Linked DNA regions of Homo sapiens. The protein of the gene in region 1 interacts with the protein of each later gene in a pairwise test. Each region holds a gene or a part of one and is shown on either strand. Other genes may lie near its edges.

Region 1 (6,895 bases):
TCAACTCCAGGAAAAACAGAAAGTTGCATATGAATAGAACTATAATCACAATGCTCTACCTGGTTTAACAGTAAACATTATTTCAATAAAGACAATATAGGATATGAATTAAACATTGAGATATAATTTTGTGGGGAAAATGAAGAGAGGAGAAAAAGGGGAGTGTAAACAATGAAAATCTTCATCTATCATTATGAGAAGACAATAAATAATGTCAAAAATTGGTGAGTTGTAAATAAAATCAAGGCATTTTATTTAAAAATGATAAAGTAAATCCCCCCCCCAAAAAATATCTACAACAGTTTTATGTTATTACCTCTAGAAAGCATCACAAGGTTGGAGGAAGGTGGAAGAACAAGGAGTTATTGTTTCTTGGGTTAAGCTTTTTAGCATCATTTGAATTTTCAAATTATTTTCCTGTGATATTTGCGTAAACAGTTAGATGTATTTTCAAAAAATAAGTGTATTCTTTACAAAAGTTCAAAGCCTTAGACGTGTAATTTGTGTTCTTTTAACGTTGATTTGACAATAAAACACTGAGCTCTATTAATTTGCTGTCTTTATTAACTTATCCCAGTTTTTTGGGCCCCTATCAGGCCACAGATAAATTCTTGGGAGTCACAGTTTTGCATGTTTGTATTATTTTCAATTATACTTGAAAATGCATATGCCTGTTTTGGATCTGGGTAGCCACTGTGTAAGTGTCATTTTGATACCTCCACTATCATGTGTGTATCTATTCAAGTTAGGGCCAATTAGCACTACTTTAATAATTGCAGGACAATGAGAAAGAATAGGGCTTTCATCTATTCAGGCTGCTATAACAAAATAACATAAACTGAGTGACTAATAAACAATGGAATTTTTTTTTTTTTGAGACAGAGTCTTGCTCTGTCGCCCAGGCTGGAGTGCAGTGGCACAATCTCGGCTCACTGCAACCTCTGTCTCCTGGGTTCAAATGATTCTCCTGCCCCAGCCTCCCCAGTAGCTGGGATTACAAGCATGCGCCACCACATCCAGCTAATTTCTGTATTTTAGTAGAGATGGAGTTTCACCATGATGGCCAGGCTGATCTTGAACTCCTGACCTCAAGTGATCCACCTGCCTTGGCCTCCCAACGTGCTGGTATTACAGCCGTGAGCCAGCGTGCCGGGCCAACAATGGAAATTTATTTCTCATAGTTCTGTAGGCTGGAAAGTCTAAGATCAAGGTGCAGGCAAATTCTGTGTCTGGTGACTTCCTCGTACAAAGCCTTCTTCTCACTGCACCCTCACATGGCAGAGGGGTAAGGGGTTTCTTTCAGACCTTTTTTATGAGAACACTAATCCCATTCATAAAAGCTCTACCCTCATAATCTAATCACTTCCCAAAGGCCCCACCTCCTCATACCATCACCTGGGGGTTTATGATTTCAACACATGAATTTTGGGGGGACACAAACATTCAGACCATAGCAAGCAGTAAATGATGCAGCCGTATCAAATGAGAGCCCCATGAAATCATAGCAGGCCATATGAATAAAAACTATGTAATAATTTGAATGAATCAAGTGTTGAGGAAATTCCCAAACCACATTGTAGAAGAGTACCAGAAACTCAAAAAACCCAGCAGTCAATAGAGTATTCATGTTGCAAGCAGCAATTTAAGTTCAGCAAAACAATATCTGTCACATAAAAGTAGTGTTATTAATTTGAGTCGCATTTATTGATTTTGTAGGCTTTAAAATGTATACATTTTAAAATTTATGTAACTACTGTAAGCATAAGGAATTTATCCTATTTTCATTTTAGTACATGTAGGTTCAAATAATAATATAATCCTTCAAATAATTTCCACATTATTTAAATTATTCTGTTAAGTGAGTCTATACATTATTTAAATTTGAAAAGCACTGACTTGTTTATATTTACTAAGAGATGTGATCGGGTCAGTTTGCTACAATCCAGGATGGAATGCCACCCAATTTGTGGCACTCACCAAGTATTCATTAATTTAGAAGAAAGTGCTTTTCTCTTTCATCAATTTTAATTCACTAACTTAATTATCAAATAATATAGTGAACAGCTTCATTGTCTTCAACACTGGAATTTCTTTATCCTGACTTCTGCTTGTTGGGTGCACTCATCTATATATAACTTATGCCTCCCCTAAACTCAGAGAATAAGTAGGACAAAACTGGGGGTGGGATGTTTTCATTTCCTTTTGTTGCCATAACATCTTATCACAAATTTAGCAGCTTAAAAATAACATAAGTTTGCTATTTTATATTTCTGGAGGTCGGAAATCCAAAACGAATTTCTTTGATCTAAGATCAATGTCGCAGGATTGCATCCCTCTGGAGGCTCTAGAGTATAATCTGTTTCCTTGCCTTTCCCAGCTTCTAGAAGCTTCCTGACCTATGCTGAGGTCATCAAATCTCCTTTTCTGCCTCCAATCCTACTGCCTTCCTCCCTCATTTATAAAGACCCTTATGAGGCTGAGTGCAATGGCTCACGCTTATAATCCCAGCACTTTGGGAGGCCGAGGTGGGCGGATCATGAGGTCAGGAGTTCGAGACCAGCCTAGCCAACACAGCGAAACCCCGTCTCTACTAAAAATACAAAAATTAGCTGGATGTGGTGGCAGGCGCCTGTAATCCCAGCTACTTGGGAGGCTGAGGGAGGAGAATCGCTTGAACCCGGGAGGTTGCAGTGAGCTGAGATTGCACCACTGCACTCCAGCCTGAGTGACAGAGCGAGACTCTGTCTCAATAAATAAATAAATAAATACCCTTATGATTACATTGAACCCACCCAGTAGTTCAAGATAACCTCCCTACCTCAGGATCCTTCCTCACATCTGCAAAGTCTCTTTTGTCATGTAAAGAAACATATTCACAGGTTCCAGGGAGTAGGACGTGGAGATCTTTTGGGTGGCATTATTCTGCCTCCCACAAGGGATGCCACTATGCCTAGCCTGTCCCCAGAGCAGAAACCGATGGAGGAATCTGCTTTGGAAGTATGGGAACACAAGCTCCAGAAAGAAAAATAAAAGGCAAATGGATGTAAATTAATAGACAGGCATTTTATGGTGAATCAGAAGGAATTTCTTTTTCTGAGGAGGATCAAGGAGCATGTTGAGGATTTACAAAATGTGGGAAAGCCACCAACTAAGGAAGAAAAAGCAGACTGCTTCCCTGAGGGTTTGTTTGAGATGGGAAGAGTTACCTGGGAAAGACTGTGCTCCAAGGTCACACCAATTACCACGTGCATGAAGATTATACTCAGTTCAGCTCCAAAATCACCATCTACATGTTTATTTCAAACTTTGCAAACAAACCAAACAATGACATCAGAATTAAAATGGTTCCACCACCTCCCTGTTCTTATGCCATTGTTTTTCTTTTTCCATGATTCCTGTAAGAAACCTGACACTAATTAAGCTAGTGCAAGAAGAAGAAGAAAAAGAAGATGAATCTTCCACCACACTGGAGATAACCCAAGAAGTAAGAAAAACTGATCTCTACCCAAAAAGGACAACAATGGTGAAAGACTGCATTTGCAACGGGGGTAATATACTCAGAGTTTAAATTTCCGAAAGGACAAACAAAACATGGAGAGTCTAATGAGATCTTCCAGCTGCTTCTCTCTGCTAAGGTATTTCCCCTGGCAACAGCTAGGGAAGCTTGGGTGTATTTTCCCCTTGCTGTGTCATATGATGTTCCTTTCCCTACCCCCACCTCCTCCAGACTGCTGCCTCCATCAGTGCCTGTGGCGTGTGTGTGTGTGTGTGTGTGTGCGCGCGCGTGCGTGCACGTGTGTATGTGTGTGTGTGTGTATTGGGTTTCTCTCTCCCTTGTAAGAACACAGCCAGCCCGCCCTCTCCTGCTGTTGCTGCAGCTCTGACTTGCTTTTTCCTGCCTCCTTCCTCTCCTCTCTCTTCTTGCTTAGCTTCTTGCCTTCTGGTAAGTATGACAAACACTCCCCCAAGCCCTGTGAGAAGGTATAGGGTGCGGTTTGTGGTGTTCGAAACTTGCAACTTTGAGATTGCCAGTGAACTGTTGGAGAACTTTTCATTGTTGTATTTATAAATAAAATGTGTTGCTTAGGGAGGGATGTGTCTGTGATAGTCATCTGGAATAGCCAACACAAGTGAAAAGTTCTCTCCCTGGGGAGGGGAAAATAAGGCAATAAAGTTTATATAAGATAAAAGTTAGAAATAATTTCTTTGCCACATAATATAAAATGGATGATTGAAAAGTAACAAAGTTCTCTGACTTTGTTTTTTTCCCTCTTGTTAACTTGTCTTGAGGCTACTTTTGGGAATTGAATTGTCCTGGGCTTTATAATGACTGTTCTGTTTTAAAGTAAATGTGGAACAGGAGTTTAAAGAATAGCCATGGAATTAAGAATTTAAAAAATCAATGATTGTGGCATCTCATGAAGAATAAATCAAATACAAACAGCCACTTGCATTTAGACTAACCGAAGTAAAACTCCTATGGACAGCTTATCTTAAATTAATTATTTTGAAGTTCATTTTACTTGAGATTTTATTTCATCCTAAGATAGTCTCCCCGACTTTAAAACCCATGTATGGATTTAAGCCACTAAATGTTTACTGTTTTCAATTTGACTGAAAAACGATTCTCTTGATTTTCAAGGATGAAGTGCTAAACGGCATGACTCATTTTAGAATAGCTTAAAATAACTTCTGGCTGGACAGCAGGTGCCGTGTGTCTTTCTCCGTGTTCAGGGGAGGCCTAAGTTATATATAGATGAGTGCAATCAACAAGTGAGGTCAGGAAAAGAAATCCCAGTGATGAAAATAATGAAACTGCTGCATTATTTGATAATCAAGTTGGTGAATTCAAACCAGTGAAAGAAAAAAAGTACTTCCTCTAAGTTATGAGTGTTTGGTGAGCATCACAAGTCAGTGGCAACATCTGTGTGTTGAATTTTCTGTTCTTGTTGGTGTCTGAGCATTCAATTGACATCTACTGCCCTGAGAACAGGAAAAGGAAGCTGTGCAGTTGTAGAACAGTATGCTTTTGTTTTCACTTTCATGTTACCACAACAGCAAAACCTGTGAATTATGAGGATCTTGCCACATTTTTATGCTGCTATTTAGCAGCATCACTGTTAAATATTATTTACAAATAAAATGCACCATAACTTAAAGGCCTAAACCAAATCTATTGCAACTCTAGAAGTGGTAATAGTCAGAAACCCTGGAATCTCTGACTCAGTACCATCTCTCACCCTTTCCTAAGGGCCCTTATTATTGCTGAATTATTTCTCGAGTTGGTCTCCTCCTTGTTTATGAAACATTGCTACTTCTTAAAAATCATTAAGTTTTTCTAGAGCTTCCTGACTTAGAAGAGAAAGTTGTAATCTGTTTTTCTCTTTTAAAAAATTGGTTTATATATTGGAATAAAAGAGTATTATAGAAATTTAAGGAATTGTTGTTATAAGTATCATCATGCTTTTGTTTTGTTTAGTTTTTGAGACGAAGTCTTGCTCTGTCACCCAGGCTGGAGTGCAGTGGCACGATCTTGGCTCACTACAGCCTCCGCCTCCCAAGTTCAAGCAATTCTCATACCTCAGCCTCCCAAGTAGCTGGGACTACCGGTGCCCGCCACCACACCTGGCTAATTTTTGTATTTTTAGTAGAGACAGGGTTTCACCATGTTGGCCAGGCTGGTCTCCTGGCCTCAAGGATCCACCCGCCTCGGCTTCCTAAAGTGCTGGGATTACAGACATGAGCCACAGCACCTGGCCCGTGTTTCCATACTACTTTGTCTATTTATTTATACCTTCCCTCATTCCCTGTCTTAATCTAAAAATGATGCCAGTTTAAGCCTCAAAAAAAGCATTCGTGTTGCTTATCTGAAAAAGAAAATGCCAGAAAAGTGAGAAATGTCTCCTCTATCCAGTGTAATAATGCATTTACATCAAAATATTCACACTAAGCAAAATATTGATTTATGGATCAAATAGAGCTTAGAGATGTTATTCTTATGAGTTATTTAAATAAATTCAATGGCTCTTCTATTAAATATTTTAACTTTGAAAGAAAACTAATACCACTTTATATTTAAACATTTTAAATATATACAGTCATGTACCCCCAGTGATTGTTAATCTACATAGAATTATACAGGAAAATGGTAACACAAACTGACTAGTGTAAGCAAAATGACAAATATGGCCACAAAGAAAAATAGCATGAATTACTTTCTTAATGTGAATAATAAGGAATGCTACTGAAAACTGAAGATCAAAACCAAAAATATGCCAGCAGTGTGACTTGATTTGGAAAAACAACTTTCCACTGTCCCTACTTTAATAATTGTAATGCAGCAGGACAAGCCGCAGACAAAACCCTTCAGACACCCAGTTAAAGAAGGAAGCAGTTTAATCGGCCGGGAGCGTCAGCAAGACTCCTGTCTCAAGAGCCGAGCTCCCTGAGTGAGCATTTCTTGTCCCTTTTAAGGGCTCACAACTCTAAGTGCGTGCACGTGAGAGGGTTGTGATTGATTGAGCAAGCAGGGGGTACGTGACTGGGGGCTGCATGCACCGGTAATTAGATCGAAACAAAACAGGATAGGGATTTTCACAGTGCTTTTCTATACAATGTCTGTAATCTATAGATAACATAACCTATTAGGTCAGGGGTCAATTTTTAACTACCAGGCTCAGGGCGCGGCACCAGGCTGTCTGCCTGTGGATTTCATGTCTGCGTTTTAGTTTTTACTTCTTCTTTGGAGGCAGAAATTGGGCATAAGACGATATGAGGGGTGGTCTCCTCCCTTAGTAACATCAATGGTTTGTGAAAGGACATTGCCTTTCTCTACGTTAGAGACTATAATTAGTTGGTATTCACTTGGGGGATATCCTTACCATTGAAATGTAGC
Region 2 (7,904 bases), on another chromosome or scaffold:
ACAGGTAAAAGAAAGAAAAGGCATCCAAATGAAAAGGAAGAAGTTAAATTGTCTCGGTTTGTAGAGGACATGATCTTGTATGTATAGAAAACTCCTAAAGATTCCATCCAAAAGCTGTTCGAACTGATAAATGAATTCAGTAAAACTGCAGGATACAAAAACCAACATACAAAAATCAGTAACATTTCTATACACTAATAATGAGCTATGTGAAAAAGAAATTTTAAAAATCCCATTCACAATAGCTACAAAAAATAATAAAATACTTAGGAATAAATGTAAGCAATGAGGTGAAAGATCTGAACACGCAAAACTACAAAATACCCATGACAGAAACTGAAGAAGACACAAACGAATGGAACAATATCTCATGTTCATAGATTGAAGGAATTAAAATTATTAAAATGTTCATCCCACTCAAAGCAACCTACATATTCAACGCAATCCCTACCAAAATTCCAACAACACTTTCACATTAACAGAAAAAATAATCCTAAAATTCATATGGAACCACAAAAGGTCTGAATAGCTAAAACATTTTTGAACAAAACAGAAAAACAAAAACAAAGCTGTAGGCATCATAGCATCAGTAGGACAGTAACACCCAAGGTGTGGAGTAATCCCAGGATTGAGAAATGTTTCCAGTACAAATGTAGGTCAATTTTAACTTGCCTCTGGCAAATGGCAACCACAGTTGTAGCTCAAAGTGTCCAGTGCAATTCTATCACATCTTGGTCACTCGCTAGCTTGGCAGAATCAACTATTCGCTGCATTTTGAGTAGGGGTTGTGAGTTGTGTTTTTCATTTGTGTTTTGTGTGGGTATCAAGGGTAGCATGGGGGTTAGTATAGGTCCTTGCCACCCAGAGGTGATTTATAGACCATTAGTACCTGTATCAACTCCGAGGATATGAATATGTTACAAATTCAGAATCTTGAGAATCGCCTCAACCCTACCATATTAGAATCTGTATTTAAATAAAATCTCCATATACACCTTAAAGTTGGAGAAGCTTTAAGTTCCTTAGAACTGTTAATTTTAAAGAGAGAGATGATAGCTATGTAGTGGGCAGAGTAGGATCAGTCCCTAATTTCTACTTGAAATATCCTTGTCTCAGATTCTCCATTAATTTAGAGATACCATTTCATCCCTTATGAGTAAAGGCTACAACATCTTTTGTACCCTGAACTCACTTGATCAGCAGCCTTAATTATTTCAACTATGGCCCAGACCTAGGAACTAAAAAAAAAAAAAAAAAAACAAAAAAAAAAACAGGCTGGGCACGGTGGCTCATGCCTGTAATCCCAGCACTTTGGAAGGCCGAGGTGGGAGGATCACCTGAGGTCAGGAGTTCAAGACCAGCCTGACCAACATGAAGAAACCCCATTTCTACTAAAAATACAAAATTAGACAGGCGTGGTGGCGCATACCTGTAATCCCAGCTACTCGGGAGGCAGAAGCAGGAGAATCGCTTGAACCCAGGAGGTGGAGGTCGCAGTGAGCCAAGATCACACCATTGCATTCCAGCCTGGGCAACAAGAGGGAAACTCTGTCTCAAAAAACAAACAAACAAACAAAACACTCCAGGCATGGATGCCTTAATAGCTACATATATATCACAGATTCTGTGTTTTACACATTAGCAAGATCTCAGACCCTTATGATTCCAATAAACTTAGGGCTATGGATCCCTGACCACGAAGGATTGGAAGCAGCAAAGTAGGGCAAAGGGAAAGAAGTAAAATATGGAGTTGGGGTGAAGTTTACAATGAGAATTGATGGTAGAAAGAATAGCTTTGACATTTTCGTAGTTATTTAGATTTATAAATCTGTGCACACGTCAAAAACAGTCACTCAGATCTTAGAGAAATTGTACTTAACCCTGCCTACGTGTTAGCATCACCTACTTTTCTCAAGCCTCAATCTCGGAGATTCTGATGTAATTGGTTTGGAGTGGGATCCAGGCGCAGGTGTTTCATTAAAGCTTCCCAGGTGATTCTTAGTGGTTTAGGCTCAGTCATCATAGGGCCCAAAGGCCTAAACACCTAAGTAGCCTCTAAATAGGCTCTTTCCAGCTTGCTATAATCATTGACAATCAAGGACCCCAGGGTTGGTGAGGATGACCTTGGTTACTAGGATTTTCTTTTAAGAGGAAAACACTCTATATATTAGAGGTGATTTTGGCAGAAAATAAGATAGCCTGGAAGTAAATGATACACAAACACCGATATAAGTCCTGTGTCATAGTTGGAGAAATCTGGAGGGCACTGGTGTGTTGAATCAGACACCCCCTATCTCTCCCTCTTGACCCTCCCTCCATATAGCCCAACATTTACCATGCCCGTGAATCACCTGGGGGTCTTGTTCCAATACAGATTCTGACTCAGTAGTCTTGGGGGAGGCTCCAGATTCTGTCATTCTTACGAGCTCCAGGTGATGCTACTGTAGCTGGTCCAGGGACAACACTTTGAGTCAAGGTCATCCTGATGGCCTTGACTACTCCTCAACCCCTTCTTTGGAACCCAAACAAGAAGAATGGCTCCCATGAATTCCACTGGGGTCCTTGATCTACAGCCACTGTACCAAAAACTGTAGGCATTCCTGAACTAACATCATATATTTTGTCCATCTCTTTTCTTAACTATTCCCTCCTCCCACTAGGCAATGTTATAGGAGGATTGGGGCCTACTGAGTTAGAAACAAGCTTAGAGAGCAGGTATTTTGCCCCATTCATTACAAAACTATGGCACTGAGGCCAAGTTGCAAAGGATTTGTCAAGTTCACAGGTGATCGTGGTAAAGGCAAAACTAGATCTAAATCAGGACATGAACGCATCCATTAAGGATTCTGTCAAAATGATTGCTTCCTGTAGCTTTCTGTGTGAAACATCCATTTGCTTATCCTCAGGGAAATCAGACTAACAAAGACTTGGAAAGGAACATAAAATTCTAAAGCTAGGCTTATGGCCTTTATAACCCTTAGATGGGGCAGATAACATGCCACGGAGGCTCAGAGACAGCTCTGAGACTATGCAATAGCTACTGTTTCCCCTCTTGTGGAATGTTCACTTAAAAAAGCTCAAGGGCTCTATAAGTTGCCCAATGAACTCCACAGACATCCTTAATTCATTTTCATTTATTGGAACCCTCTCTCAAATAATTTTCTAAATCTCACGCAATAATGATGTATATTCTTGCTCAATATTAAGAAGCCCTCATGCAAAACTGAAGAAATAAATTGTTCTTACAAAAGAAGGAAAAAGGAATTATATTCTCAGAACATTCTGCTTACCCAGACACACAGATCTGATTCTTGCTCCATTGTTTGTGGCATTCTGGATCCTAGGGCCATTGATGAGGCTGGGTCAGTGGCCACACTGGCTCCTGGGTACCCCTTCCCTGGCCACAAAAGTCCATCCCAGCAGCACTATTTAAACTGGACTTATTTCTCACTTCACAGCTCTGGCCTGGGCTGAGACCTCCCCAACAGAGCTTATTAGCGAGCTTGTCATCTTGCTCTGTGGCTATCTAGGTCTGGAGTCAAGAGCCATTCACAGGAAAATCAGCATGAAACCTTTAAGTTTGCATATTAAATATTAACACCACTAAGGGCTACAGTGGAAAAGAGGTTTGCTGAGCTCAAGGGCCCTCACTCCACCCCCAACTTCCCTTGGCTTTTCTCTTCTATGTTGTGTTCCTGGTAAATCCCATTATGTCTCGACTACCTTAGGCCCTCTCAGCCCCTTCTTGGGAATTAGGCTCTCTGGATAGGCAAAGAGGCAGATACCCAGCTGCCAGGTGAATCAGATGTCCTCATCAGATCTCTTAATTTCCACTTTGGTGATATTTCAAAGGATCACAAATTATGTTCTTAGTGCCTGGTCAGAGAACTGGGAAAGAGCTGGAAGATGAGACACCAAACTCCATCCCATGGTGATGTTTGAACCAGGCTGGAGCTGGTTTCACATGTTTTTCATTGTGCATGACTTTCTTAATTGCCTTAGTGGGAATGCGTTACTGCAAAATAAAGTGAAATTGTTTTCCTTATTGCTTGTAATTTACAGAGGGGTGGTTTTGATCATATAAACCAGGCACTTTTCAAATCCATTGATCTTAGGGTGGAAGGAGGGATTTCTTTTTAAGTATTCATTTCGAACTATGCTTTCACTAGTAAACTCAAAGCCCAAGGGCAAAAACCCATGATTCTCCATTTTGTAATAGCTATTAGATGTCCACAGCACATCAGACCTGTGGAAAACGCATGCTTTGTGTATGGAAGAGGGAGAGGGAGCGTCAGGAGTTGTCCTTTGCCAAAAAACGTACTCTGACACTCAAAGGCACAGGCTGGTGGAGATCCAGGGAACCCGGGAAAGCCCAGGCCTAACTCAGGCCCGCGCGGGTCTCTTCTGATCCCATAAGATGAGGAGTGGGTCCTGGCTCTGGGCATCCTGGTGTCGACTGTGAGTTCCCAGCAGAGGCCCAGAGTCCCGGTCCGGCAGCCGAGGGAAGCGGGGGGGTCTTCCAGAAGAAGAAAGGGCCAAGGTCACCCCGGTGCCTCTCCAGCAGCAGCAGAGGGCGGCGGTCGGTGTCGCTGCTGGCCGGGGCCTCGAGGAAGGCGCGGGCCAGCTGGGGCCGGGTCTGCGTTCCCAGGAGCTGCCACCGTTCCAGGGAGCAAGTCAGGCCGGGACGTAGCGCCTGCGCGGGACCCTCACTTGCCACCAAGACCCCCACAAACCCCGCCCCATCCTGCCTTACGCCCCGCCCCAAGGTCGTTCTCCCGACCCGGGGTCCCGCCCCAAGGCCGTCCTCCCGCCCCGCCGCTTGGTGGCGGCCGCATGCTGCCCGGATATAAAGGGTCGGCCCCACATCCCAGGGACCAGCGAGCGGCCTTGAGAGGCTCTGGCTCTTGCTTCTTAGGCGGCCCGAGGACGCCATGGCCGAGTGCCCGACACTCGGGGAGGCAGTCACCGACCACCCGGACCGCCTGTGGGCCTGGGAGAAGTTCGTGTATTTGGACGAGAAGCAGCACGCCTGGCTGCCCTTAACCATCGAGGTACAGCCAGCTTTGGAGCGGATGGCGAGGCAGCAGGGGCAGCCCCTGGGAGCTTGGGATGCCCTAGGAAGGGCGAGGACTCAAGGAGCACTCACTATGGGGCAGGGAGGATCCCCACAGATGAAGCCACTTTGAGCCGGGCTCTGGAGGATGAATAGGAGTTCTCCAGGCAGGGAAGAAGGGTGGGAAAACCGCAAAGGAATGTCGGTCAAAGGGGTGGACCCAGTGCCTGTGGAGTGTGACTATAATGTTGACTACAGCAGGCATTTTCTGGGCTTCGGGGTCCTAATCCTTAAAAATGGGTATCTCTAAGTGACTCATCCATATGGCCGATTATCGGAATCATCTCAGGTGGGTCCCAGAAATCTGTATTTTTAAAAAGAACCCTCAACAGTTTAGGGTCAACCAGGCATAGCAAACACTGGCCTAGAGTGTGAAGTATTTTCCACTACCTCTGGGCTTTATTTAGAAAACAAATTTAACAAGTGATGTCGTAGTATAAGCGCCGGTATTGAATCAATATTGACTTTTTTAATGTGTGATGCCTTAAGATGGGTCCTTAATCCATGTTAAGTTTTTGTTAAAGAAATAGATAAGTCTTTTACAAGTATTTGGATTTACTCAATGAAAAAGAGTCAAAAAATGTTCAAACTCTCTCCAAACATACACTGAAGAAAGCATAAAAATTAAAAAATATATTAGAACACGTATGTCCAGTAGCAATCAAAAATTATTGAGTGTTGACTGTGTCTCTACAGATGGGAAACTGAGGCACAAAAATGTACATTTGTCCGAGGTAAGATTGCTAGTAGGTAATGGGGTTGGAATTCTAGGCTCTTAACCACCACAAAATCTGCATTTTTATTGGCATTTCAATTTTTTAAATATGTTTTTACTTTAAAAATCAAGTTAAATACTTACTTTTTTAAAATCAAAATTTGAAGAAATAATTTGAAGATTCAGTGGATTTCTTTTTTTAAATCTCTGAGAAATCTCTTCTTCAACGTGACACCAAAACCACGAACCAGACAGTTTTTCATAAAATCATGATACATGCTCCACAAAAAATAACCCACTAGCAAACTGTGGGACAGATTTTGCCTCACATCATTGAAAAGGCCAGTATTCTTTTTCTCTCTTTCTTTCTTTGTTGTTTTTTTTTTTTCCTGTAGATACAGGGTCTCGCTCTGTGACCCAGGCTGGTCTTAAACTCCTGGCCTCAAGCGATCCTCCTGCCTCTGCCTTCCAAAGCACTGGAATTACAAGTGTGAGCCGCTGCAACCCGCCAGAAAAAAGTGTGCCTTTCATGGCCCTGTCTGGGTGGCTAGACACGTGTGTGTGCTGGTGGTCCTGGCCCAGCCAGAGTCCCTGAGAGGAGCATGCATGGCCTAAGGAAGTGAGCTTCAGGGAACAGTGATGACCATCATTTCACACTCGGACCCCTGCCCAGATGGGTGGATGGCTGGCAGGAGGGATTCCGGTTTTCTGCGCCTGGAGAAGCCCTGGCAAGCGGAACCTGAAAGTATGCCCTGTCCTTTTCTTCTCCTCAGATAAAGGATAGGTTACAGTTACGGGTGCTCTTGCGTCGGGAAGACGTCGTCCTGGGGAGGCCTATGACCCCCACCCAGATAGGCCCAAGCCTGCTGCCTATCATGTGGCAGCTCTACCCTGATGGACGATACCGATCCTCAGACTCCAGTTTCTGGCGCTTAGTGTACCACATCAAGGTGAGTGTCTTTCTCCCAGAGGTCCATCGGGTGATCTTGGGTTTGCCCTCCTCCATGTCTGGCCTTAGTGGTTTATCTTCCCTCCATCCCAGTCCCAAAAGCATTAAAAAATGGGGGAAATGTACAAGTGCAGATTTCTAAAGGACTTTACCAGAGAGAAGATAGATCCTCTGAGGTCTCTAACAGAACCCTACCTCCACTTCCTCCCAGCCACCAGCTAGCCGCAGGAAGACATCTCTGGTGGGCAGTCACAGGCTGAAGGCTGGTGGGAGGAGGGGCAGTCTCCAAGAGCCCCTGAAATCCTCACACCTGGGTTCCTACCTGCTGTTTCCAGCTAGGGGAAGGCGCAGGAGTGAGGAATGGAGGGAGTGGAGGGCTCTGGCCGATCAATGCCTTCTCTCTCTCTCTGCCTCTCAGATTGACGGCGTGGAGGACATGCTTCTCGAGCTGCTGCCAGATGACTGATGTATGGTGAGCTCCACTGGAGCCTGACCCCTCTTAGTCCACAGTGGCTGTATCAGAAAGAAAGACCACCCCTTCTCCATGAAGGCAGTGCTAACCCCTCCCCGACTGCTGCCATCTGAGGGTCCCTAGGGATGGGAGAGGCTTCCTGGAGGCACTCATGTCTCCCTTACCACTTCGGGAGCCAAGGGCTTTGTAGGCAGCCCCCTTTATCGCAGCTGCTCATATCTATAAAGTACTTCACAAGTTTCAGCTGGCACTTTCATTTACCATTGCTTTTTTTTTTTTTTGAGATGAGTCTGGCTCTGTGGCCCAGGCTAGAGTGTAGTGGTGCAATCTCAGCTCACTGCAAGCTCTGCCTCCCGGGTTCACACCATTCTCCTGCCTCAGCCCTCGGAGTAGCTGGGACTACAGGCGCCCGCCACCACACCTGGCTAATTTTTTTTTTTTTTTTTTTTTTTTAGTAGAGACGGGGTTTCACCGTGTTAGCCAGGATGGTCTCGATCTCCTGACCTCATGATCTGCCCGCCTCGGCCTCCCAAAGTGCTGGGATTACAGGCATGAGCCACCACGTCCGGCCTTACCATTGCTTTATTAAATAAGCACTGGTGCTTGATTATATCAGCTGAGCCAGATATTAGATACGCTATTGAGTTTTGAGGAA
Region 3 (3,508 bases), on another chromosome or scaffold:
AAACTTACCTTATCATAGTACCTTGATACCGAGGATGCTCGATATGCCCTTTCTTAATTGATAAATAGTAAAGACCCTATAGGTCAGCTATTGGGCTGACTTAGGGGTTCATATTCGATCTTCAGTAAGAGTGCAGTACACTAAGAGGTTCAAACTGGATTGCATCCCCAGATTCACATATGAACAAGTCTATATCCTTGAAAAAACCAGATCTTAGGGATCCAACAGGTTGAAACTAACCCAGGGCCAAGCTGAACTTTCAGGGCAGTTCTCAAAATAACTGAGCTTTGTGGTCGTTCCCGCGCACATACCCCACAATTGGAATGATACAGAGAGGATCAGCATGGCCCCTGCGCAAGGATGACACACAAATTCATGAAGCAGTCCGTATTTTAATTTTAAAAAAAATGAGTTTCACAGGCTGAGCGTGTGTGGCCAGAGCCGGACTAGAACCAGATCTTCTGGGGCAAAGGGGCGAGGGGAATGAATGACATTTATCCAACACCTAGTTGTTTTTTCCCTTTAGCAGGAAGTCATTATGCAACTTACACATATTCATCAGATTTCCTCTGACTTACCCGGACATGTACATGGGAATGATGTGCACTGCCAAGAAATGTGGGATTAGGTTTCAGCCTCCAGCTATTATCTTAATCTATGAGAGTGAAATCAAGGGGAAAATTCGCCAGCGCATTATGCCAGTTCGAAACTTTTCAAAGTTTTCAGGTACCTCATGTCTTATCTTGCCTCCTGTCTTAAATATTCTCTAAATACAGGTTCACATCATGACTCTGTCAGGGACTGGATGTGTGACACTGGATGAATTACTTACTCTCAGTGAGCTTCAGTTTCCTAATCTATAAAAGGGAATTGTAGTGTTTTTTTCCAATCTGATAATTAATAATCCTTTTGGGATTGCTGCCTAGGTTAAATGATATAGCATTATTCAATAATATTAATTCCCTTCTCTCATTCCAAATGTTTTTTATTTGTAGTCTTAATATTTTATTAATACCACTACTGCTATCTAAAAGCTATAATATCACTTTTCTTCTCAGACATATTCTCCAGTTGAAAGTGTTTAATATCTCTACAAAGTGATTTTTAAGTTAAAGAAGTCAAAACTGTATCTGTCCTTCTCCCACCACACTGAAAGCTCAATATAAAGGAATGGTTCTACAAAGTAATTCATTCCAATCAAGCCATTTAGCTACTTGACTATAATGGAGATAATATTTTCAGGGTTCAGAGTTTTTGTTCTGTTTTGGCTGTTGCAGTAGTTTATGGCGTATATGATGTACGTGGTACGTATGTGGTATATAGTTTTCTTCTCTCTCCCAGATTGCACCAGAGCTGCTGAACAATTAAAGAATAATCCGCGACACAAGAGTTACCTAGAACAAGTATCCCTGAGGCAGCTAGAGAAGCTATTCAGTTTTTTACGAGGTTACTTGTCGGGGCAGAGTCTGGCAGAAACAATGGAACAAATTCAACGGGAAACAACCATTGATCCTGAGGAAGACCTGAACAAACTAGATGACAAGGAGCTTGCCAAAAGAAAGAGCATCATGGATGAACTTTTTGAGAAAAATCAGAAGAAGAAGGATGATCCAAATTTTGTTTATGACATTGAGGTTGAATTTCCACAGGACGATCAACTGCAGTCCTGTGGCTGGGACACAGAGTCAGCTGATGAGTTCTGATACCAAACACTCAAAACATGCATTGGGCTAGCAGAATATCCATGTTTATTACCAGACTGGTTCTGGAAGAAGCTGTAAAGAATACTAAATATGTTGGGTTATAGGGGATTGACCATGTTACTTTTCAAAACCAGGACATTTAAAGCATCTACTATGTAGGTGCATGAGGAGTATGGGAAAAACAGAATAAAGGAATCTGCCTTTAAGGAGCTTACAATCATGCCGGGTGCGGTGGCTCACGCCTGTAATCCCAGCACTTTGGGAGGCTGAGGCGGGTGGATCACCTAAGGTCAGGAGTTCGAGACCAGCCTAGCCAACATGGTGAAACCTCGCCTCTACTAAAAATACAAAAATTAGCCAGGCGTGGTGGCGGGTGCCTGTAATCCCGGCTACTCAGGAGGCTGAGGCAGGAGATTCGCTTGAACCTGGGAGGCTGAGGTTGCAGTGAGCCGAGATCGCGCCATTGTACTCCAGCCTGGGCGATGAGCAAAACTCCATCTCAAAAAAAAAAAAAAAAAAAAGCTTACAATCTGACTGGAAGATGTCAAAACCTGTGAAAAGCTAATTAGCAGTATTAAGCAACACAAACATTAGTGCCAAATGCATGATAAAGGCTAAAGAAGGCCAGAGCATATATTACTGTAGAGTAGAATAGTAAGGGAAGACTTTGTCCTTTAGTAAAGAGATAGGAGGTGGCCTGGCCCTTGAAATAGTAGTGTTTAGGTAGATGCTTGTGTAGGATTCCTGATAAGAGCAACTGAAAAGAAGGAGAGGGGAAGTAGTAAAGGGACAAGAAACAATTTTTTTTTTGAGGAACCATAAGCAAATTATAGTTTGACAAGACAAGATTGGGGGACATATATGGTTACCAGGGAATTACCTCTTATGTGTTATATCTTTATATTATTTATCTCTGGAAAAGAGTACCCTGCAAAATTCCCTACAGCTGCAAGCAGATGTCACTTGATGGACAGAGGGGGAATTCTGCCCCTCCGGTATCGGGAAATACATACTAAAGACATTGCGAAACGCTGAACCTCTTCCCATAAATAAAAGGTTTGTTTGTAAAATGGGAAATCCACCCATAATAAATGAACAATAGGCACTGCCAGTTTAGGCCTGTTCATGAATGGATCTGCAAGACAGCATCTTCGTTTAACAACATTATCTGTGATTTGATACATTTATCCTTATTACAATATTGTTTAGTTGGTAGAAATTCTATGTTTTCTACAAGGAAATTGATGTTTATTAAATAAAACTGAAAATAATTACTCAGTGTTTCTACCTGTTCACTTCCACTCTCCTTACCATTAAGCACTTCATTAAAAGGGAGCTCATTCTTGTAGTGATATCACCAGAGTTTTGAAATAGTCAGATCTCATACATACAGTAGCCAAAGGGAGCCAAATAATTTTCTGAATTAGAGATCTTTCCATATCTACATAGTATTCCTTTATTCTTTATTGTATAGATATAGGTAGTTTATTTTTTATTTGAGACAGGGTCTCACTCTGTCACCCAGGCTGGAGTGCAGTGGCATGATCACAGCTCACCAAAGCCTCAACCTCCTGGGCTCAAGTGAGCCTCCCCTCTCAGCCTCCCAAGTAGCTGTGAGTACAGGTGCCCACCACCACACCTGGCTAATTTTTGTATTTTTTGTAGAGACAGGGTTTCACCATGTTGCCTAGGCTTGTCTGGAACTCCTGGGCTCAAGTGATCCACCCACCTCAGCCTACCAAAGTGCTAGGATTACAGATGTGAGCCACTGTGCCTGGCTATAGGTAACTTATTTTAAAATTTGT
Region 4 (7,554 bases), on another chromosome or scaffold:
GGCCACCTGTTCATGTTTCCTCTATTACGTCTAGGTAATAAAGGAATTCCTCTCAGATGATTCTAATTTCAAGGATGAAGTTCCTACATTTAAAAACACGAAACACAAAGATAAAACATATGCTACTTAGTAAAAACAAACATTAAAGAATGCTCATATAATTTTATATGAAAGACTCCATACTTAAAATCGTAGCAGTGGGCTTTTAACCTGACCATAATAAGTGGCAAATTTCTCAAAAGAATGAGAAGGGTTGCGAAAAATTTAGAAAAGTGAAAAAAAAAAAAAGCTACATAAACACACTAGTACATCTGGCTCTTGAGCTAACGCGAAGGCGGGGGGGAATCATTTTTGAAGGCTATGATCGGGCTGTGTATTCCCTAAAGGGCATGTGATGTAATACTGGAGAGCCGCCTAAAGGAAAGGGATAGGGTGACAAAGGGGGTGCGGATGCCAGAAAGAGGGATGAGCCTGCGGGTGTCAGGGAGGAGGTGGATCACTAGCGAGTGCAGGGGTGTATCAAAAGATGATTTCGGGGAGTGGGGAAACGGCCCGACAAGCGAAGGTACAGGAGCGAGATGAGGGTGGCGCAGAGAGGAGGCACGAAGGCTCCCGGGGAAACGGTGTGACATCTGGCGTGCGGAGCCGGCAGGGGGCAGACCAGGCAGGATGTCACGTGGAGTAGGCGCTACGGGAGCCGAGAGGGTTGCGTACGGACAGAGGGGGGTCTTTCCCACCGCCTGAAAGACTGTTACTCACAGGAGTCGCGGACTCTTCTTGCCCTGAACTGGAGACGGGGACTTCGCGGCCTGGGGCTGCTGCCCGGGGACGTCGGGAGGCCTGGCGCTGGGGCTGCTCCTCCGCCGGCGGGGATACTCGGCCTTCCTCCGGCGGGACACAGCTGCGGCGGCGGCGGCCGCAGCGGCCCGGCCTCGGTCCCGACCTCCCCTCAGCACGCGGCTGCTAGTGGTCCCTGCAGGCGCCGCCGCGACCGCCTCAGGGGGCCGTTGTTGGGGCTCCTCCGGAGCCGCCTTGGCCGCCTCTCCCCCTTCCTGGTCCTGCTGCTCCGGGGGTCTCGGCTCTTCCGTCTCCCCCGGCATCGGGGCTTGTCCGTCCCCCACCCCCTAGTCCTAGGCGGCGGAGGCGGAGGCGGCGGCCTCGGCGCTGCTCCCCCCGCCCCCTCGCCTCCCGAAGCCTGCGGCTCACTCTCACCCTGCGCTCCTCTTTCCCCCCTCCCCTCCGCCCGGCTCCGAGGGCGCCCCCCCCACCCCCTGCCACTCAAGGTCCGCTACCGCTGGCGGCGCGCGCGCGCGCGCCACAGACGCTCAGCGGGCCAATCGGAAAAGAGGACAAGCCTCCTCACCCCGCCCCTCGCAGTCTTACACGCAGCGGCGCCCCAGGTTCCCTCCCCCACCCCTTCCTTCAGCCAATCAGGAAACGGCTAAAAGGGGAGCGCGCGAGGTTTCCTTCCCCGCGCACCCGTTCTCACCGTTAAACGGCTGTGTCTCGCGACAATCCCAAAGTGACCTTTTTCCCCCCTCCAGACTTCAACGCGCGCTAGGGGCAGTGCGAGGGGCAGGTCTCGCGAGGGAGGCGGGTGAGAAGAAATCGCACCTCTTTCCCCGCCTCACGCAAACCCTAGACTGGCTGCGCGCGCACCTGCCTCCCTGAGGAGCCACTGATACCACAAGGGCTCTTTCTATTCTTCTTTAGGCCGCAGAAGTAGCCTGGGCGTTCTTCCGCCTCCACCCTACCCCACTTTCCTGTCTTTGGCCTTTCTGTCCCCAGCGCCGCCAGATCTTGCGCGGAGAAGGGGGTAGTATTTTGAGCTGTCGCTTCTCCTTTAAGAAAAAAAGCCCCGTCGGTTGCCGGATGAAAGTCTCTGAAAAAATGGCGGCGGCAAAACGGAGGCGGGGTTGTGGGGGCAACGAGGGCCCGCCTCTTGGCGCATGCGCACCGTTAACTTAACCAAGGGCATTCTGGGAGATGAAGTCTTATTTCGCCTAGGCTTTAGGAAAAATAGATGGGAAACCAGAGGTGGAGAGGATGCCGGGAGGTTCTAACTGAGTCACGACGGGAAAGGTAGTTTACTTTCCGCAGTCTAGAGTTTACCTTTTTTTCGGGAGGCAGTGTTTCCGGGTTAGGTCGCGACGCGTGCCGTACATCCGGGCTCAAGCGTCGAGCCAATTGCTGGTCTGATGGGAGGGTTTTTCCTACTTTTTCTTACTTTTTATCTGGGCGTTGGCGTACCTTTCTCGGGGTGTCTGCGTAACTGCCCAGACTTGCCTTGGTTTGGTCAGATGACACCTCCTCTGGGACTGGCTAGCCAGCGTTCATGTCTACATTATTGATCTCGTCTTCCGGTGTGTGAGTCACTCACCTGTGAGCTCCTAGAGGTCAGCGACTAAATCTGGTTCCATGGGGTCCTTGGGCCCTCGGAGCCCTAGCACAAGGCCCACTACTCAGTTGGCTCTTAATCAAATCTGTGAAACGAATTATAAAGTTGCTTTTCTACTAGACCTTGTTGGGACACCAAGGAGCCGGCGTCGGTTGCTTAACTTGGATGCGGTGCCTGACCTAGAGGGAGGCGAAAGGGTTGTGAGCGTGACATGACTGGTGACCTACACCGAGAAGCTGAAGGGTCTCTTAAGCTCTGCGGCCGGAAGCCATCTGCTTCTGCGGTTTATACAATAGCAACTTTATCAGAGGTTACTTTTCTGCACGCTAGCGTATGACATTAATTTGTCTTCCTGATTCATCAAAGGGAATTTCCGTTGCAGTTGGTGATGCAGTGGGCCTCTCCCATTTCTTTTTTCTTTTCATCCATTACAATCAAGGAACGATTTGCAAGAACATCCTTTACCCCTGGAAAATAAGGCATCCAGGGCTAAAAGTCCCAAAAGAAAGAAGCTGGAAACAAGATCTGGGGATCCAATTTTAAATTTCACATTAATCATTCAGTTAAACTGTAGACAAGTGCTGAAGTACATTTTTCCTTCCAGTACTTTGACTCAGATACCACTTCATATTAGACAAATGTTTTATATTCTCTACTGAGTATTTTCCATTTTCATAGGGCTAATGTCATTTTCAGTTGTAATAATCGATTGGCATAGTGTCAATGGAAATTTTTTAAGATTGAGTTTGTAGTGAGCAGACTTTTGGAAGGAACAGTGCTGACATCCAATGGATGCTCAAAGTAATACAGAGGAGGAATCTCCTTTCAAAAAAAAATGTACAGACAGTGGAATGGAGAATGAATTATTCCCTAAAAAAAAAAAGCCACTGTGGGCTGGATGTGGTAGCTCACCCCCGGAATCCCAGCGCTTTTGGATGCCAAAGTGGGAGGATCCCTTGAGCCCAGAACTTCCAGACCAGCCTGGGCAACATAGGGAGACCACCCTCTACATAAAAAATAAAAATAAAGCTTTTAAGCTAACCTGGTGGCGTGATGGGATGCACCTCTGGTCCCAGCTACTCCAGAAGCTGAGAAGGGCAAATCGCTTGAGTTCAGGAGTTCGAGTTGGAGGTTACACTGAACTATGATAGTACCTTTGCACGCCAGCCTGGGTGACAGAGAGCTTGTCTTAAAAAAAGTAAAGAAGGCTACGGTGTTGTAGAGGAAAGATCCCAGACTTTGCAATTATAGTAAGTAGCAAAGCTACCAATTAATTATCTTAGCAAGTTGCTATTACATGAACCTATTTCACCATTGGTAAAAAGGGGGAAAAAATCTATTTCACAGGGCCATAATTATAGTTCCTTACGTATTGCTTTTTTATAGTAGGCCTTTTGTAAATGTTTAATTCAAGGTGAATAAATCACAGTGGTAAAAAAGGTGAAGAGTTAACCTCAGTGTTACTTTCCAAAGAAATTGCTATAAGGCAGTGTATCTAGGCAGGGATTATGCTTAATTGAGATGCACACAGTTTAACATCTGGTGTCAAACCTGGCTTCCTTCTTTGTGACCACCCTATAGATGTTTGCTTTTGGGACCACTGAGTAAACCAGGCCCTGAGAATCCAAGCATGAATCCACTTCTGCCCTACTTTTAAGGATTTACGTTCCATGCAGGAAAGCAGATAACCATAATTTCTGAATAAATAAGACAACAAAATGAAATGGATGCTGGTCAACTCTGATGCAAATTTTAAGAAGGAGACTATGCCTCTGTGTCTCCCAGCTTCACAGAAAAAAAAAAAAGAAAAAAGAAAGATGCTCAGAGTGGGGTACCTACACTTGGAAAAAACGCAAGTATAAGTCTGCCATTCCCATGAATCCAAGATGAATCCTGGCACAGAGTAGGTCCTCAAATTTTGCAAAATTAATTTTGAATCTTTATCACCCTGGCCAATGCACTGCCATAATGCAAATCTTACTATCTACCTTTCTATGTCAGTCACATTTTTAAAACTGTGTAACCTATGAAAAAAAAAAAAAAGCTCACCAAATCAAAAGAGAGGAAGTGCTAAGCAAATACAGGAACCAAAAAGGTTTATAGAGGCTGCCTTATGCTGTCTCATCCAGTTCCTTTGCGGTCCTCTTCTTCAGCACATGCCAAAGCTGTTCCTCACGGCCTGTGAGACAAGAGCATCTTGGATGTAGGACAATGGAAGAGTTAGGTGAGTGAGGAGCCTGAGGAGAAACTCTGAGGGAGTGAAGACTTGGCTGCCATCTCCTTGTGTGGTGGGGTATACTTCTGGCTAGACTGAGGGTAGTAATGGAAGATTTTATTTTCACTTCTTTCCTGTCCTCAGCCCTGCCAAGAGTGAAGCATGAGGAACTATGATTGTTTTGGGGAACTATGGGTTCACTGTTTGCAGTGGCAAAATAGATGGAGAGTTTGGTGCTAACCGCGGAATAAACTCTTGGCAAATACTTTTGGACTGGATTGTTACTGCAGTTGTTGTCTTGTTATGGGCGTTTTGCCCTTTGGAGGTCACTGGAGATCAAGGGTGGCCACATAGCGAGACAATGCAGAGATATGATTTGAGGAGGAAAAGAAAGAGCAAAAAGGGAATTGGGGTGTTATGAGGAAGAAAAGACGGACTAGAAGTATAAGAATGAGGGATCTGTAGAGGTTGGAAAAAGGCCAGAGTGGTTTCATTTGTTCCATGTTTTAGTATTAAATCAAGAAGGCATAGCACTCTAACTCTAGTGATTTTGTTGCTAAGCTTTTTATTCAGAAGAATTCTGAAGGAAGAGATTACTAGGGCCTGAAAATATGACACCTCCTTCCACTCTAAGACAATTAAAACCAGCAGTGGAACTATTAACCATATTAACCAGAGAAATCCTGGATTTCAAACCTTTGGAGTAATGTAAGGTTTGTCATTCTTGGGACTCATTCCATAGCCTTTGCCAACATCTGTTGCCAGCATCTTAACTAACACTGAGTCACTAAACTATACCCAATTTCCAAACTGTATTAATTCCACAGTGTCCTGGTTTGGGGTGTGTTTGGGGATAGGGTATGTCAAAAGTGCAAAAAACAACAACAAAAAATATCTTGCACATTGTTACATTGTCTTAAAAAAAATGGCGTGTGATTTCAAAGCTGGAGAAACAGAGGAAAAGTAAAGGGCAAATTACCAGGAGGCAAGAGATGTTAATGAAGAGAAAAAGGTAGTGTTTAATAAATATCAAACTGCTTTGGAGGTAAAGTCTATTTTGATATTGGGCCAGACTCTTTTTTGGACTTGGGGTAGAATTCTATTTCTTATCCTACGTGAGTGCTGGGAGAATGTGAATTTCTGCTTGAGTTCTAGTAGTGCTAGGGCCTTTTTTCTTTTTCTCTTTCTTTTTTTTGGGGGGGATGGAGGGGACACCGAAAGGCTTTCATGGCAAATAATTCAAAAGGAAACTAATACTTATTTAGTAAATCAAGCAAAAACTAGACATTTTTACATATGTTAATCATTTTAGTGTCTGCAGCAACCCTCTGAAATAGGTGTTATCCACTTCTTTTTCAGATGAGAAAACTAAGAAAAACAAAATAACTTTTTCAATGTCACTGTCGGGAACACCTGACACCAAAACTAAGCAACAAGGTGCTCTCCTATTTTAGAAGTTTATTGGTTCTGGTGTCTGTCCAATGAAGTAACCCAGATTTAACAGAAACTTATATTGTTTTGCATCTCCTGAGCAGGCTAAATGTTAGGTAAATCTTGTCTGGAAATACAGAAAGTACCAAGTAGCCTGGAAGCTAATATTTGTGCAGATTATCCAGTTGGCTACGTCTCCACAGGCTGTTGATGGCTACACTTCAACAGTTTCTTCAAATTGTCATCAGCCCAGTAACTACCCTTGAGACTTGGTGTGGATCTTTCTTCCTGCTGGCAGAGAAATGGCATCGAGGACAGGTTGGCTCAAGTGAGCAAATATTTCCTGTCTGCAGTGGTGCCTCAGAGGCTAGCAGCTTGTATACACCCAGAAGGTTTTACCTAAACCCTCATTACGTAGGCATTAGGCATGATAGATAAAGAGGAACCAGGAGCAGATTCTGCCTCCGAATGAAATCCATGCAACCCTCAGAGACTCCCAAGAGACCTCACTTTACTCCTTTCATGTTAATATTGATATTATTTCATCTCCACAGTAAAAGACTACAGAGAAGAATTATGGAGTCTTCAGTCTAGTCCCCACTTCCCCCGCCCCCACTCTCCAGGAATCCCATATTTGTCATACTGAAATTAGTCATCTTCAAATTACAAAATCTGGCAAAAGGCATAATAACCTCACAGTGTTGGTGATATGCACACTCATATGAAACAGGAAGAGAAAAGCCTATAACTCATGACCCAGAAAGAAGGGTTTTGATAACTTTGGTTAGCTGGTGCTTCTGAGGGCAACTTCCTACTCTTTGTGGTATGGTTTCTTCTCTCTTATAATCTTTATTGTAAATGGCTTTTTATTTTGAGCTCAGGAGGATCTTTGGCTTCTAGTTAGAGCAAAGCTTAGAAAATAGAAAAGAAAGGGGCTCTAGCATAATTGAAAGATGTAGAATAAAAATTCAAAATTCTCAAATTTGGTGTGGGGTCTGGCTAATAAAAATCTGAGGCAAAAAGTTTTCTTTCTTTTTCTACCTTAGTTTTCTTTTCTTTTTCTTTCTTTTCTTTTCTTTTTTTTTTTTTTTGAGACGGAGTTTTGCTCTTGTTGCCCAGGCTGGAGTGCAATGGCACGGTCTCGGCTCACCGCAACCTCTGCTTCCCAGGTTCAAGCGTTTCGCCTGCCTCAGCCTTCCTGAGTAGCTGGGATTGCAGACATGTGCCGCCATGCCTGGCTAATTTTGTGTTTTTAGTAGAGACGGGTTTTCTCCATGTTGGTCAGGCTGGTCTCGAACTCCCAACCTCAGGCGATCCGCCCGCCTCGGCCTCTCAAAGTGCTGGGATTTACAGGCATGAGCCACCATGCCCGGCCTATTTGTCCTTCTTTTTAAAAAACTTCTATTATAAAGAAATTTAAGTATGCAAAAGTAGAGAAAATAGTTTAATGAATTCTGATATACCCATCAACCAGTTGAAACAATCAGTTCTTCATCAGTCTTACTTCATA

The links.
Region 2: the proteins of TXLNB (region 1) and TCL1A interact in binary tests that used the Homo sapiens proteins (3 or more experiments, as listed by UniProt).
Region 3: the proteins of TXLNB (region 1) and CEP19 interact in binary tests that used the Homo sapiens proteins (3 or more experiments, as listed by UniProt).
Region 4: the proteins of TXLNB (region 1) and LPXN interact in binary tests that used the Homo sapiens proteins (3 or more experiments, as listed by UniProt).

The regions. Positions count from the first base shown.
Region 1 is NC_000006.12:139,288,969-139,295,863, reverse strand, and holds the start of TXLNB (beta-taxilin), read left to right. Parts: upstream 1-3,865; 5' UTR 3,866-3,943; intron 3,944-6,895. UniProt on the Homo sapiens protein: Promotes motor nerve regeneration. May be involved in intracellular vesicle traffic.
Region 2 is NC_000014.9:95,711,094-95,718,997, reverse strand, and holds the start of TCL1A (T-cell leukemia/lymphoma protein 1A), read left to right. Parts: upstream 1-4,872; 5' UTR 4,873-4,931; coding exon 4,932-5,051; intron 5,052-6,223; exon of another isoform or gene 6,224-6,447; intron 6,448-6,601; coding exon 6,602-6,778; intron 6,779-7,195; coding exon 7,196-7,243; 3' UTR 7,244-7,249; intron 7,250-7,904. UniProt on the Homo sapiens protein: Enhances the phosphorylation and activation of AKT1, AKT2 and AKT3. Promotes nuclear translocation of AKT1. Enhances cell proliferation, stabilizes mitochondrial membrane potential and promotes cell survival.
Region 3 is NC_000003.12:196,705,746-196,709,253, reverse strand, and holds the end of CEP19 (centrosomal protein of 19 kDa), read left to right. Parts: intron 1-526; 5' UTR 527-596; coding exon 597-726; intron 727-1,341; coding exon 1,342-1,703; 3' UTR 1,704-2,977; downstream 2,978-3,508. UniProt on the Homo sapiens protein: Required for ciliation. Recruits the RABL2B GTPase to the ciliary base to initiate ciliation.
Region 4 is NC_000011.10:58,572,828-58,580,381, reverse strand, and holds the start of LPXN (leupaxin), read left to right. Parts: upstream 1-4,525; 5' UTR 4,526-4,609; coding exon 4,610-4,622; intron 4,623-7,554. Other genes in the region: E3 ubiquitin-protein ligase ZFP91, read right to left, coding at 760-1,100. UniProt on the Homo sapiens protein: Transcriptional coactivator for androgen receptor (AR) and serum response factor (SRF). Contributes to the regulation of cell adhesion, spreading and cell migration and acts as a negative regulator in integrin-mediated cell adhesion events.